2 separate regions of the Homo sapiens genome follow, and region 2 is linked to region 1. Evidence: fine-mapped expression QTL. A gene starts in region 1. The other region holds a variant in brackets. All regions are shown on one strand. Distances are from middle to middle. Region 1 holds the start of IRAK3 (interleukin 1 receptor associated kinase 3). Region 2 holds the start of TMBIM4 (transmembrane BAX inhibitor motif containing 4).

Region 1 (8,339 bases):
GGATGATGGGAGTTGAGAAAAAAGAAAGTATAGCATAGCTTTCAAGGAGACCAGAAGAATGCATGGGCTAAAGGTGCATAGTATGCTTGTCCAGTGGCATAAAGGACCCACTTGAGAGTCTTGGCCTTGATTTTAAATTGAGTTCAATTAACAGGATTTTGGTTTTCCACCCCGTTCCCCAGCTACACTCAGGTGCATGGGTGTGGAGCCAACTTAGAAAATTGGATTTAATCAGAATTGCAAACTTGCCAAGAGAGCTCAACAAAGTGAGAGAGGAGCAAGGGAATGTAGAGCATATGCAAAGGAGTGAATAAAATAATTGACCACAGACTTAATGGATAAGCAGAAAAGTCAGGATGTCAAGAGGGTGGAGCCAGAAAAGAGGCAGCAAGATTTTGGATTGGATATCTGGTGAAGGGACAGGATTGTTGGGGTCAGAGTACTAGAGGGAATGTGCTAGAAAGACAGGAGGTATGATCAGAGAGTGGATTCATGAAAGAAATTATAGATGGGATGCAGCTATTGATAATGACAAATTCTAGGGGACGCTCATGGGAGTAAGTGTCTGAAATGGAGCATTGGGTGGAGTACAATGTCACCAGAGAAGAGGAGTCAAGGAAATGAGAGGCCAGGGCATTGGAAAGATCACCATCTATTCTACATATATATATATATATATGTGTGTGTGTGTGTGTGTGTGTGTGTATGTTTTAATTTTGTTTCATCAACTTTTATTTTAAGTTCTAGGGTACATGTGCAGGATGTGCAGTTTGTTACATAGGTAAATATGTGCCATTGTGGTTTGCTGCACAGATGATCCCACCACCTAGGTATTAAGCCCAGCATCTATTAGCTATTGCTTCTGATTCACTGCCTCCCCCTACCCCCTCCCCTGACAGGCCCCAGTATGCATTGTTCCCCACCAAGTGTCCATGTGTTCTCATGGTTCAGCTCCCACTTATAAGTGAGAACATGCAGTATTTGATTTTCTGTTCCTGTGTTAGTTTGCTGAGGATAATGGCCTCCAGCTCTATCCCTATCCCTGCAAAGGACATGATCTCATTCCTTTTTATGGCTGCATAGTATTCCATGGTGTATACATACCACGTTTTCTTTATCCAGTCTATCATTGATGGGCATTTGGCTTGATTCCATGTCTTTGCTATTGTGAATAGTTATTCTACATATATTTTAAATCACTGAGAACTAAGATAGGATTAGTACTGGAGAGAGCAACAATGAGCCAGGAGCTAGAGAGTCTAAAAACGAGGAGAAGGAATTGGAGTCGGGGAGATCAGCAGTTGATAGCAACCATGATGATACAACCTGATGATATAAAAATCAAAACTCAAGACAGTTTTAGGAATAGGAAGGCAACATGGTCTGAGAACGACTGCCAACACTGAAAATACAGGAAATTTCACATACTCTAGCTTTCACTTAGGATCCTTGCTTCTTGGTAAATTACAAGATCTGGTAAAGCAGGCCTTTCTGATTGCTTCCCTCATCTGCAGTGATTTCCTGTTTCCTCTGAGTGAGTTTGCCTCCCTGTAGTAGCAATTCAAAAGCTACCAAATAATTAATGGCCTTTTGCCTCTGTTGCTCAGCATGTTCAGGTAGTCCCTTTAAGAGATGTATAGAGGGCCGGGTGTGGTGGCTCATGCCTGTAATCCCAGAACCTTGGGAGGCCTAGGGAGGTGGATCACTTGAGCCCAGGAGTTTGAGACCAGATTGAGCAACATGGGAAAACCCCGTCTCTACAAAAACTACAAAGGTTAGCCAGGCATGGTGGCATGCACCTGTAGTCCCAGCTGTACTGGAGGCTGAGGTGGGAGGATGGCTTGAGCCCAGGGGGTGGAAGTTGCAGTGAGCCGAGATCGCACCATTGCACCCCAACCTGGGCAATCAGAGCGACTAAAAAAAACAAATAAGAAAGAAAGGAGGGAAGGAAGGAAGAAAGGAGGGAAGGAAGGAAGGAAGGAAGGAAGGTAGGTAGGTGTACAGTGTGTACAGATTGACAATAAAACCTTGAACAACGGGATATCGAAATTCTTGCCCACACAGTATGGGCTTTGCCAGTTTTCAGATACATTTTTATGAAGTATTTTCGCTGGCAAAACCATTCAGGTAGGGGCATGAAATGATAGTGTTTCATCACTCGTGATCTCTAGGGGCAGCTATTCCAAAGACTACAATCTGAGAGGTTTCAAAACACCTCTGGTGTTTTCACTTGATGGCCACTGCCCACTCTTCCAGTCACTAAGGCTGAGATTTTTCTCACCACTTTCAAAACAACTTTTTGTCACTGGTAACATGCCTCATGTGACCTAGAAGATTTTGAAACAACAATTTTACTTAAACTCCGTGAAGATTTCAAAACAACAATTTTACTTAAACTCCATGTTGAAGGCAAAAAGGAAGATTGTGTGAAGCACTTTGAGGAAGGAAAAAATGATGGAACGATATTTCATCAAGGAAGCCCATGAGGAAGAAAATTTATTAAAACCAAGTAGGTGTATGGAGGAGAGGCCGCCTCGTGAAGAAAACGAACATAATTTTACGCTGATTTGGTGTCTTTTCTGTTTTTCTCTTGTTGGTATCTACATTCATCTTTTCCAATAATAATCCCATATATGTACATTTTTATCTGTTTAAATTCAGTAAAAGTTGGGAGGAAAATGTGTCAAAACTTTTAGAGTGTGATGGGCTGAGTGGGGTTGTGAGTGATTATCTTCTTTTTTCAGTTTTTTTCTGGGTTTTCCAAGTGTTCCTCGATGAACATGGATAGTTTTTCTGACAGGATAAAAAAGAAGTAGTCCGGGACAGTGGCTAACACCCCGAATCCCAGCACTTTGGGAAGCCGGAGGTGGGAGGATCGCTTGAGGCCAGGAGTTTGAAACCAGCCTGGGCAGCATAACGACACTCCCTCTCTACGAAAAACGAAAAAAAATAATTAGCCGGACGTGGTGGCGTGCGACTGTGGTCCCAGCTACTCGGGAGGCTGAGGTGGGAGGATCGCTTGAGCCCAATAGGTGGAGGCTCCGTGAGCTGAGATAGCGCCACTGCGCTCCTGCCTGGGCGACAGAGTGAGAACCTGACTCAAAACAAAGAAAAAAGGAAGAAAAGAAAGGAAGGGAAGAAGGAAGGAAGGGAGAAGCTTTCAAAAATAAACTTTTGTAAGAAGTAATGACACCGCTAGCCGTCCACACCAGGAGACCGCCTAGCCGTGGGGCACGGTGGGCTCCTGGGAGCTCTGAGCTCTGGGCTTTCTCCAGTTCGCACTCTGCTTGTCTCGGCAGCTCCGTCCCCACCGCAGAGGTGTGAAGGGGCGCAAAGCCAGCGAAGGGAGAACCCGGGTCGGGTAACCCCCAGGCCTGGCCAGGCGGACGCAGGGGCATCTCGGGCGAGGCGCGCCTTGCGTCACGTGGGCACCGCCCCTGCAGTGACCGGAGAACGGCGTGTTCCTAGGGCTCTGCTGCCGTCGTGGAAGCAGGATTTCCGCGGTTGTGTAACGGCCTGTCGCAGGCGTGCAGGGACCTGGACTCCGCCTCGTCCCCGGGGCTCGGGCAGCCGAGCCATGGCGGGGAACTGTGGGGCCCGCGGCGCGCTGTCGGCGCACACGCTGCTGTTCGACCTGCCGCCCGCGCTGCTCGGAGAGCTCTGCGCTGTTCTGGACAGCTGCGACGGCGCGCTGGGCTGGCGCGGCCTGGGTGAGTCGGCGGGGACCGGCCGGGGGCGGCGGGGGAGCCCAGCGCGCCGCGGGGCCCGCTCGGCGTCGCCCTGCATGGCTGGGGTCCCTCGCGGGGCTGGCGCGGCCTCCGGGAAGTTCCCGCCAGGGAGCCGGCCCCCTCCTTTCCTGGGTTGGATGCAGAGACTCCCTGGGACCCAGATGCCTTCCCTCCCTTCTCTTTCAAAGAATTTTGGGTATCGCTGCAAAGTCAAGGGAGCCGAGGCCTGGGAAAGACAGATAACCAGCGTGAAAGCATCTTCTGTTCGTCCGCGATGCCACCCTCACTGGGTTCGCAATGTATGATGTCTTCTGGTCCTTGCAAAATCACCCCAGAACATCATTTTAGTATTGAGACATTTTTAGAACTTTGAGATACTTATCCTTTGGTGTTTTCAATGCATCCCTAAGCCCCTAACTTAATTACAAGTGAAATGCTAAAGTAAACTACGGTTTGCAATGAACGCGGCTCCTAATTTTCTTAATTAAATCTTATTTACCCAATTTCGTTGAATGAAGGTTTATGCTAAAGGGTGGCTTTTTATTTTAATCTAAAAAAATTGGCTTCAGAACTGTATTTTATGCAGACATTGGAAAGTTGAGCAACTGCCTGCTGGAAGTGTTGAGTGTAGCCAGAGATAATTCGGACAAAAATCTTCGTTTTGTTAAGTACAGGCATTTTTGGTTAGATTTGATATTCCACAATGTCATGTTTAATGTTTATTGAAAAGAATCATGATTATGTCAAAATAACTTAGCTTTAATGGTCTGAAATAGGATTTTTCTTACCAGGACTAGCAGAAGGCCTAAGAGGAGAGTTTTCTTTGTTACTGATGAACAGTATGGTGACAGTCTTTGAATTGTAGCAATGGGCTTCTGGTTATACAAAAAATGTTTATATATTTTAAGCTCTGTAATTTTAAGTTATGGCCCTTAAGAAAAAAAAAAAAGTCTGATTTCTAGAAAACGAGATTTCCAGTGTGCATTTGAGGGATTTTGAGGGATAAGGTCACTTCCCCATCAGATCTTTTTGAGATGGATTTTGGCGTGGACAGTATTTATACCCGTTGATTTCCTAGAGTTACTGACTTTGAGAAAGAAAAGTGTTTTTAGTCCAGTTTAATGTTGGTGAATGGGGCCAGGTGGGTGTGGTAAATTAGTGAGGCAGATTATTCTCTCTCTTTCTGTTGATAGCATTGAAATCCAGATATTCATGCTTTACATGGCTTGTCTCATATAACTTCTCCAATTACTCTGTGAGTCATTATCATCGCCAGTGTTTTTTTAACAGGTCAGGAAACTGGTACAAATTGGTTAAGTAACTTGTTCAGGTTCACCAGCTGGAAATGGAAGAGCCAGGATCTGAACCATGGTAGTCTGGATCCAAGGCTTATGTCCTTAACCCCAGCTACTCTACACTTCTCCCCTTACTGCTGTGTTCTTTCTGGCCACATCTAACAGCCTCCCTAAAGTACAGACATTTCTGGCATCAAAGAACAATTCAGTGATCCATTTCAAGCATGCAGCCCTATTTTCCTAGTGGTGAAAATGAATGAGGACCACCCAAATGAGAACAAACAAAAGCTATTTTTTTCAAAGCAAGGGAGCCAGCACCATTGCTTGTGTTTGGCAGAGACTCAAAAGCAGACAGAGGATGGAGGAGGGTGGGAGAAGAAGGCTTCAGCTGTGTCCTGATTGGAGGCTGTTGATATGGGGAAGCTGTAGTTGAGCTACCTAAAAGGGGGTATTTTGTGTGTTTGTTTAGGGGTACATAATTGGCTTTCTCTGGTTGGCCCTAAGTTGGAAGTAGGAGCAAAAATTGAGGAAGTGGTCAGTAATTATTCAAGTCCTGGCCATTTGAGACAGGTTGCTACAGGGGTTCTTGTTTGGCTGCCTGGGCTAGTTGCTACAGTTTAACCCAGTTACTGATAGTTTAACTTGTTAGATACTGTAGACGGTAGGTTGGTTTCTTGGACTGGTTGATGTACATTGCCTGCAGAGTTCTATTTTTATATATAAGCTGGCCATTGTCCCTTTGTGTATTCATTCTCTCACAGGGAAAGGGTCTAAAATGTTTACTCCATGATACTTCAGCTGTAATTCATTGTGCAGGTGGTCATGCCTACTGACTGCCTGGACTACTGAGCTGGCCCTGACCAGGTGCTGCACAAGTTCTTGGCTCAGCAAGAAGGCAAGGCTAGCCCAGTTCAGGGTGTTGAGGCAACTGCCTGTGCTAAACATGCCGAGTTTTCCTGTGGGCACAGCGAAGGGAGAAAGAGGGGAAGAGGTGCAGGTAGGGAAAACTTGACCTTCGAGAGGGGAAGGAGAGTGACAGAGGACTGAATCAAAGAGGCAGTCCTTTGTATGCTCAGGACAGCTGACAGCCCAAGCTTAAATGTAGAAAACAACTGTAATATACTAAGTAAAGCTCTCTCGAGCCGATCGTGATTCTTGATGACGGTGAGTGTCAGGTTATGTTTACAAAGGCAGCTCATATAGCAGCCTATATGATATGACCAGTGTGTGCAGGATAAGGTAAGCCAGTCATTCACAAACACAAATCACCTATGCAGTCTTTTAAATACACAGATGCAGGTCCCACTCCTAGAGCTGCTGATTCAGGAAGTCTGGGTTGAGGGTCCAGCTTCTTTCATTTTTTGTCAAGCCCCAGGAGTGAGTCTGAGGCACAACCTGATTGGTAAGCCATTGCTTAGGCCAAATTCTCTTTTTTAATAGTGTCTTCATATAACAGATATTTTACTACATTCTTTCATTACTTCATTTAATTACTTTTATTTTTAAACATATTCTACATAGTACTCTTCAAATCACTTTTGTCAAGTATTGTTATTAAAAATAATGTAATCACAAGATAATATATTCTGTGGTTATCATTGATGACTTTATGGCTTTTAGTGAAAGCAAGAGCCCAAAAGCCCAAATGAAATATGTTGTTTACGTTACAGACATGATAACGTAGTACATACAGAACCTCTGGAGACAACTCATCTGATTACATTACCATAGATTGGTATTTAAATTAAATTATTTGGAGCAGCTGACACCGTAAAAACCTCTCAACACTTACGATGTACTGAGAAACGCTTTTTGCAAATGATATATAATAGGCTGTATTCAATTTTCTTCCTCTCAAGAAAGAAAAGGGAAATTATTATATAAATCATTAATAATTACTTTAAAAATTAAATGTAAAATCACATTAAGTGTGCATTTGTATATTCAATAAAGATTCAAAATAATAGTAGTAATAATAATAAAGCTACCTCCTGTCAAGGCTTACTATTGGCCATTGTGGTAAGCATTTTACATGGATTATCTCATTTACTTATTACAACAATTCTATCAGGTAGACACTCTTCCTATTTCCATTTTATAGATAGGTGAACTGATTCTCAGAGAATTTAAGTAACTTGCCTTGAGTCACAGTCTTCTAAATGGCACACTAAGATTCTAACCAGATGATCAGACTGCATATTCTATGTTCTTTTTTTCTTTTCTTTTCTTTCTAAATTTTAAATAGATGTGTTTTTTTATGTTATTATTATCTTTTTTTTGAGATGGAGTTTCGCTCTTGTTGCCTAGGCTGGAGTGCAATGGCGCAATCTCAGTTTACCGCAACCTCCGCCTCCCGGGTTCAAATGATTCTCCTATCTCAGCCTCCCGAGTAGCTGGGATTACAGGCATGCACCACCATGCCCGGCTTAATTTTTTTTTGTATTTTTAGTAGAGACAGGGTTTCTCCATGTTGGTCAGGCTGGTCTCGAACTCCCGACCTCAGGTGATCTGCCTGCCTCAGCCTCCTAAAGTGCTGGGATTACAGGCGTGAGCCACCGCGCCTGGCCTAGATGTATTTTTTTAAGAACAGTTTTAAATTTATGGAAAAGTTTAGCAGATAGTAGGAAGAGTTCCCAGATACTCTACATCCTTAGTACACTCCGCACCCAGTTTCCCATTATTAACATCTTGCATGAGTGTGCTGCATTCATTACAATATTGACACATTATTATTAACTAAAGTCCATGCTTTATTCAGACTTCCTTTGCTTTTACCCGATGTCCTTTCTCTGTTCCAGGATCCCATTCAGGATACCACATTACATTTATTTGTCGTATCCTCTGGCTCTTCTTGGCTGTGATGGTTTCTCAGACTTTCCTCGTTTTGAGGAGTATTGGTTGGAACTTATCCACTATTTTGTAGACTGTTCCTCAACTGCGATTTGTCTGATGTTTTTCTCATGATCAGACTGAGGTTATGGATTTGGGGGAGGAAAACCATAAAGTACTGACCTGTATCCAGGGTCGGTACTATTTACAGGAGTTATCACTGCTTATGTTAACCATGGCTGAGATGGCATCTGTCAGATATCTGCCCTGTAAAATTACTTCACTTCCCTCTCTTTCTGTTTCTTACTTTTTGGAAGGAAGTCACCATATGCAGTAGAGCCTGCTTTTTTTGTGTTGCTGTTGTTGTTTTGGAGACGGGATCTCACTCTGTCATCCAGGGTGAAGTGCAGTGGCACAATCACAACTCACTGCAGCCTCGACCTCCCAGGCTCAAGTGATCCTTCCCACCTCAGACTCCCAAATAGCT
Region 2 (8,339 bases), 22 kb before region 1:
CAAGGTGAGATTTGGATACGGACACAGAGCCAAATCCTATCAGACAGAATCTGAGAATGTCTTATTGGTTTAAGAGACATATACTTTAGAAAGCTGAGCTTCAACACAAATCCTCAAACTCTTCCAAAAAACTGAAGAGGAGGGAACCCTTCAAACTCATTTTATGGAGCCTGCATTACCCTGATACCAAAGCCAAAGACACTACAAGAAAACTGCAGAGCAATGTCCCTGATGAGTACTGATGTGAAAATCCTCGACAAAATACTAGCAAACAGAATTCAACAGCACATTAAAAGGATTATAGATCACCACCAACCAGTATTCCTGGACTGTGAGGATGGTTCAATACATGAAAATTAATCAATGTAATCAGCACATTTACAGAATGTTGGGGGAAAAAGAAACATGATCATCTCAACTGATGCAGAAAAAGCTTTTGACAAAATTCCACAACCTTCATGATAAAAACACTCAATAAAGTAGGAATTGAAAGAAACTACCTCAACATATTAAAGGCCATTTTTCCACGGTAGTAGTTCTATGCAAACCGACCCCCAAATTCCAAGAAAGCTGAGAGGCTGGCAAATCCATTTTCTTAGAAAAAAACATTTAATAGGGACATAAGAACAGAAGCCATCTCTGTGTCTCTGTCTCAGGCAGAGAAAAGATAGTGGATCTACGGGCCATAAATCCCCTGACCTAGGGCTTATATACCAGAGGGAAAGGGTGATTCAGAAGGGATTGTAGGACAACTGAAGGAAGACAACATCAAGGTTGTTTTGACCTAAGGACAGGATTTATGGTAAGTACATGCTCTTATACAAGGAACCACAGATAAATTGGAAATCTTAGAGGGTTTCCTGGAACTGGGGTTAGTCAGAAGTCAACAAGGCAGATTAGCAACCAAGATGGAATTACTTTGGCCTCCACAGCCATATATGAAAAGCCCAGCACTAATGTCTTACTCAGTGGTGAAAAGCTGAAAACTTTTCATCTAAGATCAGGAATAAGACAAGGACGTTTGCTTTTGCCATTTCTATTCAACATAGTACAGGAAGTCCTCGCCAGAACAATTGGGCAAGAAAAAGAAATAAAAGGCATCCATATTGGAAAGAAAGGAGTAAAATTATCTCTGTTCACAAACATGACCTTACATGTAGAAAACCCTAAAGATTCCATAAACTGTTAGAATAAATGAATTCAGCAAAGATTCAAGATACAAAATTAAAATGCAAAATTAGTTACATTTTTATACACTAACAATGAGAAGGTTGGAAAGAAAGTTAAGAAAACAATTCCATTTACAACAGCATCAAAAGGAATAAAATGCTTAGGAATAAACCTAACCAAGAAGACAAATTTGAAAACTACAAAACACTGATGAAAGAAATTAAAGACAAAAATAAATGGAAACACATCCATCATTATACATTGGAAAACCGATGTTCATACTACCCAAAGTAACCTACTTTGGGTAGATTTAATGCAATCCCTATCAAAATCCCAATGGCATCTTTCACAGAAATAGAAAATCCATTCTAAAATGTATATGGAATGTCAGGGGACCCCAAATTGCCAAAACAATATCTAAAAAAAACAACAAAGTTGGAGATCTCACATTCCTGATTTCAAAACTTATTACAAAGCCACAGTAATCAAAACAGTGTGGTACTAACATAAAGACAGAGACATACAGACCAATGGAATACAACAGAGCTCCAATAATAAATCCTGGTATATATGATCCTTTTTTTTTTTTTTTTCAGACACGGTCTCCCTCTGTTGCCTAGGCTGGAGTGCAGTGGCACAATCACAGCTTGCTGCAGCCTCGACCTCCCAGGCTCAAGTGATTCTCCCACCTTGGCCTCCAAAAGTGTTAGGATTACAGGCGTGAACCACTGCACCCAACCTTGTGAATCTTCTTTAGTGGGGTATGTGTTCAAGTCTTTTGCTGTATTTTATTCAGGCTATTTGTCTTCTTATCGTTTAGAGTTCTTTTGTATATTTTGGATAACAGTCCTTTATTAGATATATCTTTTGCAAATATTTTCTCCCAGTATGTAGTCTATCTTATTTTCTTGACTTCTTCACTTTAAAATCAGGTTGTTTTTTGTTATTGAATGGTAGGATTTCCTTATGTATTCTGGATATTAGCCTCTTACAGGATATATCATTTGCAAATATTTTCACCCATTTTATGGGCCTTTTCACTCTGTTGAATGTGTTCTTTGATACACAGAAGTTTTAAATTTTGATGTCATCCATCTATTTTTACTTCTGTTGCCTGTTTTTGGTGTCACGCCCAAGAAATCCATTGCCAAATCCAATGTCCTCCTATGTTTTTATCTAAGAGTTTTATAGTTTTAGGTCTTACATTTAGGACTTCGATCTTTTTTGAGGTAATTTTTGTATACAGTTTAAGGTAAGCATCTAATTTCATTCTTTTGAATGTGGATATTCAATTTTCCCAACACCATTTGTTGAAGAGACTGCCCTTTTCTCATTTGATTGGCTGGGCACAGTGGCTTATGCCTGTAATCCCGGCACTTTCGGAGGCCAAGGTGGGTGGATCACTTGAGCCCACGAGTTTGAGACCAGCCTGACTAACATGACGAAACCTGTCTCTTCTAAAAATATAAAAAATTAGCTAGGCATGGTGGCATGTGCCTGTAGTTCCAGCTACTCAGGAGGCCGAGATGGGAGGATCACTTGAGCCTGGGACATTGAGGCTGCAGTGAGTTGTGACTGTACCACTGCACTCCAGTCTGAGAGACAGAGTGATACTTTGTCTCAAAAAAAAAAAAAAAAAAAAGAAAAAGAAAAAGAAAAAGGAAGAAGAAACACAAATGGCAAATAAGTATATGAAAAGATGCTCAACATTATAAGTCATTAGAGAATTACAAGTTAAAGCAACAAGGAGATGCCACTACACACCTATTAAATGGTCAAAATCTAAAACACTGATATCATCAAATGCTGACGAGTATGTGGAACCAACAAGAACTCTCATTCATTGCTGGTGGAAGTGCAAAATAGTACAGCCACTTTGTAAGACAGCTTGGTGATGTCTTATGAAACTAAACATTCTCTTACTATACAACACGGCAATTGTGCTGCTTGGTATTTACCCAAATGAGTTGAAAACTTATGTCCACACAAAAACCTGCACATGGATGTTTACAAAGCAGCTTTATTGACAAAACTTGGAAGCAGGCAAGATTTCCTTCAGTAGGTGAATGAATAAACTGTAATGCATCCAAACAATGGAATAGTATTCAGCACTAAAGAAAAATGAGCTATCAAGCCATGCAAAGACATGTAGAAAACCTTAAACGCATATTATAAGTGAAAAAGGCCAATTTGAAAGGTTACATGATAATTCCAACTATACAGCATTTGGGAAAAGACAAAACTATGGAGACAATAGAAGATCAGCAGGAAGGGAGGGATGAACAGGCAGAGCACAGAGGAAGGCAGTGAAACTATTCTGTATGATACTATCATGGTGGATACATGTCATTAA[A/T]CATTTGTCAAACTCATAGAATATACAACACTAAGAGCGAACCTTAACGTAAACCTTGGTCTTGGGTGATAATGAGGTGTCCAGTCTAGGTTCACTGATTGTAACAAACATACCACTCTGGTACAGAACGTTATTAGTGCAAGAGGCTTGGGGAAAAGCAGAAAGGGTATATAAGAACTCTGTTCTTTCTGCTAAATTTTGCTATGAACCTAAAATTGCTTTTAAAAAATTAATTGGGCAAAGGACTTGAATAACATTTCTCCAAGGAAAATGTATAAATGCCCCACACGCATACTTTTAAAATGTGCAACATCATTAAATCATTAGAGAAATGCAAATCAAAACCAAAAGGACATACCACCTCACACTCATTTGATGGCTATTTTCATTTTAAAAAGAAAGAAAAGAACGGAATGTGTTGGCAAGGATGTAGAAAAAGGTGAACCCTTGTGCACTGTTGCTGAGAATGTAAAATGATGTAGCCCCTATCAAAAACAGTATGGCCGTTCCTTAAATAATTAAAAATAGAACTACCACACAATCCAGCAATTCCACTTCTGGGTATATATTCAAAAGAATTAAAGCACGGTCTTGAAGAGGTATGTGCACACCTATATTCATGACAGCACTATTCAAAGTAGTCAAGAGGTAGAAGCAACACAAATGTCCATCAATGGATGAATAAACAAAATTTGGTATATACATACAAAGTACTACTACTGTCTTAAAAAGGAAATTCTGCAGCCAGGTGCAGTGGCTCATGCCTGTAATCCCAGGACTTTGGGAGGCTGAGGTGGGAGGATCGCTTGAGTCCAGGAGTTCAAGATCGGATGGGGCAACATGGAGAAACCCGTCTCTACCAAAAGTACAAAAAAATTAGCCAGGCCTGGTGACCTGCATTTGTAATCCCAACTACTCGAGAGGCTGAGGCGGGAGGATCACCTGAGCCCAGAAGGTAGAGGCTGCAGTGAGCAGTGATCTCACCACTGCACTCCAGCCTCGGTGGCAAAGCGAGACCCTGTCTCAAAAAAAAAAAAAAAGGAAATTCTGACATATGCCACAACATGGATGTATTTGAAGACATTATGCTAATTGAAAAAAGCCAACCACAAAAAAACAAATACTGATTGTATCTAGAGTAGCCAAATTCACAGAGAGAGAAAGTGAAATGGTGGTTCCAGGGACTGGGGGAAGGAAGGAATGGGGAGTTAATAGGTATAGAGTTTCAGTTTTGCAAGATTAAAAAGTTCTGGATATTGGATGGTATATAAGTTTAGTCTAAAGCTATGCCTTTAGATATTTTAAGTTCAGCCTAGGGGTTCTCGGTATATAGTGAACTATAACCTAGTAAACAGGCTGTAACCTACGCTTGAACCAATCACTGAGTTTCAGCCAAAGATGGCCACGTGTTCAAACCATGTTCAAACGGGCAAAAACCAAGCTGTAACCAATCAACTCTTTCTGTACCTCACTTCTATTTTCTGTACCTCACTTTACTTTCTCTCTCCATAAATTTTCTCCCACCAAGCGGCAGGACTCATCACTCTGAACCTTATTCTGGTTCCGGGACCTGCCCAATTCGCAAATCATTCTGTGCTCAAACTCCGTTAGATTTAATGTGTCTAAAGTTTTTCTTTTAACAGTGCACAACCATGTGAATAACTTAACACTACTGAACTATACACTTAAAAATAGTTAAGACGGTAAATTTTATGTTACCTGTATTTTACCACAATTAATTTTTTTTAAAAAAAAGCTGAGTTCACTGGCCAAAATAATTTCAAAATTCAATTCCAAAAATATAAATGCTAGGCACCAAGATTCTTGGTGCATCAGAACTATCTTCATCTTTCCTTTTCCAGAACAAGTTCTAGGCACTAAGATTCTTAGCACATCAGAACTATCTTCATCTTTCCTTTTCCAGAACAAGTTCCAGCTGCCTAAACAGGCTGAAAGTCTGGGGCTGTTTCGGCGATCAAATGACCAAACTAGAGCAGGCAATGGCTTCCACGTAGATGAAGCTGAGCATTTTAAATTCAAAAATTTCTGCCCATTGGCTACTACGTAATAACTTAAAACACAATTTAGACTGACTTAGGAAGCTTCTGTGTTGAGCAACTTCCTCAATAATCCTCAAAGACCTGTTGCATTCTGGGCCCTGCGGAGAGGAAATAGTGCCGTCAGGGAGCTTCCAGCCTAGCACAGGACGGTAAATATAAGCCTGTAACGCGAAACCCCACAGAACAAAAACATCAGGCCGTGGATTCCACTCGTGTGTACGTCAGTCACAGTGATCAACCGACTCATTTCCACGACGTTTCTTTTCACTTCAAGATGCCAAATTCAGGCTGCGGCGGTTTCCATCTGTCCCTTCCTACACCGCGGCGCCCGCTGGGGAGCCGGGGCGCACACAGGACAGCCGCAAGCCTTCTGGGCCTGGCGCCCTCCCACACCCGCTAGGAGGGGAGGAAGCGCCTCCCCGACTCCCTGAGGAGGGCGCCAGTCCTCTGGTACCCGGAGAAGGAGGGCCGGGAGCTCAGTGAGCACTCCCTGTGAGTCCCAGGAGATGGCCGCTCTCCCTCGGAAGCCGGAAGTCGGCTTCTAGAGGCCGAGCAGTGCAGACAAGCGGCTGGGAGGCACTGGAGAGGGGACAACGTACCCATTCGGATGTGCACGGTGGCGGAGGCCACGCTGCTGCCATAGTTGAAGTCGTCCTCGATCGAGGAGCGAGGGTACCGGGGGTCGGGGTCAGCCATGATGGCAACAGCACCCCTACCGGTCCCGGTCCACTAACCGCAACCGCCTCCTCCCCACTTCCGCGAGGAAGAGCCCAGCCCCAGCAAGCCGTGCGGCGTCGGCGGGCGAACACCGAGCGAGTCGATTTTCTCGCTTCAAAAATTCCAGCTGGGCGGAGAAAGCGGGGATGGCTCCGAGTTAGAATGGAAGAGAAAACGGTTTACATTCCCGGCGTCATCTGAAGTGAAACTTTTCTCAACACACTTTTTTTTTTTTTTTTGAGATGGAGTTTCACTCTTGTTGCCCAGGCTGGAGTGCAATGGCACGATCTCGGCTCACCGCAACCTCCGCCTCCCGGGTTCAAGCGGTTCTCCTGCCTCAGCCTCCCGAATAGCTGAGATTACAGGCGCCTGCCACCACGCCAGGCTAATTTTTTTATATTTTTAGCAGAGACGAGGTTTCACCATGTTAGCCAGGATGGTCTCGATCTGCTGACCTCGTGATCCGCCCGCCTCGGCCTCCCAAAGTGCTGAGATTACAGGCGTGAGCCACCGCGCCCAGCCTGAACACACTTTAAGTCCTTTCACCTTGGAGAGTTGCTAAAGTGATAGAACCCATGTCCCAGTCACCCATCCACTCAACAAATACCCATCTCATTCATCCACTTTTTCAATAATCACACCGAGGATGCATTTTTACTTCTATTATTTTAAAATAATAATAATACCTACATTTATTGAGCACTTTCTATAAACCAGGCTTTCTGAATGAAGTAATATTTAATCCTGAAAGGCAAGTAGGAGCCAACCAGAGAAAGAGCAGTGATGTAGGCTGGGCCTCAAGGGACCAACGTCTGCAAAGAGGGAGACGGTGAAGCTCAGCTGGTGTAGGGGACAGGTGGCAAAGAATGAGGCTGGATAGATAAACAAAGGCCAGATCATCCTAGGCCAGAAGTAGAATACATTGAAGAGGGCCATTACCAAAGGCAGAGAAAAGGGGATAAAGTTGTATTACTGTAAGAGAGAGATGATGGTGGCAAATACAATGGATTAGAGTGAATATTCATGATATTGTTGTCATTCCAATATAAAGAGGTGTAGACATACCCAGAGTAGTGTCATCCTAGGGTCCCTTGGAATTGTTTTGATGAGTTTACTCTGATCTACCCACATTGCCCAGTCCTCACCTTAACCACAACACCCGAACACTTAGCAAGTGGAATTCAGAACAGTTGTGGAACAGTCTATTCTAAACTAAATCCTTAAACTTGATGTTCTCAGAAGCCTTTGCCAAAAGAACTAACGTCACTTCCACAATGACAAGAAAAACAAAACAAAACAAAAAAACACTTTATCTTTTATGATTTTACAAACATTTTACAAGCATATCATTTTAATTTGTTTTTGTTGGTTTGTTTTGAGATAGAGTCTCAGTCTGTCACCCAGGCTGGAGTGCGGTGGCTCTATCTCGGCTCACAGCAGCCTTGACCTCCTGAGGTCAGGTGACCACCCCCGGGTAATTTTTTGTATTTTTTGTAGTGACGGAATTTCGCCATGTTGCCCATGCTGGTCTCGAACTTGGGCTCAAGTGATCCCCCTACCTCGACCTCCCAAAGTGCTGAGATCACAGGCGTTAGCCACTGTGTCCGGCCCCTCGTTTTAGTTTAGTTTGTTGAATGGATAGGTGAATGGGATATGGCCTCTATCTCTTTAGTCACTCTCCAGGTGAGAGGACTTAAAAAGCTTGCTGAGAAAAATCTGAGAAAAGTTTTACTTCAGATGACACTGGGAATGTAATCCGTTTTCTCTCCCATCCTAACCCGAAGCCATCCCCTCTTTCTCTGCCCCGCCGTAATAATGGAATTTATTATAGAGGACAAACTGGAGCTAAATTGGGAACCCACCTTTGTATTGACTAAAAACAGCATCAGCAAAGTTTGATCCTTTACCTCTTACCAGTTACAAAAAAAAATAAATTCCAGATAGATTGTGGATATAAATGTGAAAGGCAAAAACAATAAAACTTAAAGAAAATGATACAGGAGAATATGATTTGGAGGAAGGCAAAGATTTCTGAAACC

What was found. PIP is the estimated chance that this variant, and not a neighbour inherited with it, causes the effect.
Region 2: its variant is fine-mapped to the expression of IRAK3 in whole blood (TOPMed, PIP above 0.99).

What each region holds. Positions count from the first base shown.
Region 1 is chr12:66,185,723-66,194,061 of GRCh38, forward strand. IRAK3 (interleukin 1 receptor associated kinase 3) reads left to right here and starts at 3,492. Exons shown (of 12, transcript NM_007199.3): 1 at 3,492-3,710. The coding sequence starts at 3,578. RefSeq lists silencers at 3,597-3,646, 3,667-3,826.
Region 2 is chr12:66,163,673-66,172,011 of GRCh38, forward strand. It overlaps TMBIM4 (transmembrane BAX inhibitor motif containing 4), which reads right to left and starts at 6,324. Exons shown (of 7, transcript NM_016056.4): 1 at 6,183-6,324. The coding sequence starts at 6,279. RefSeq lists enhancers at 5,476-5,575, 6,058-6,582, 6,226-6,305. The variant A/T (reference allele first, on the strand shown) is at 3,524.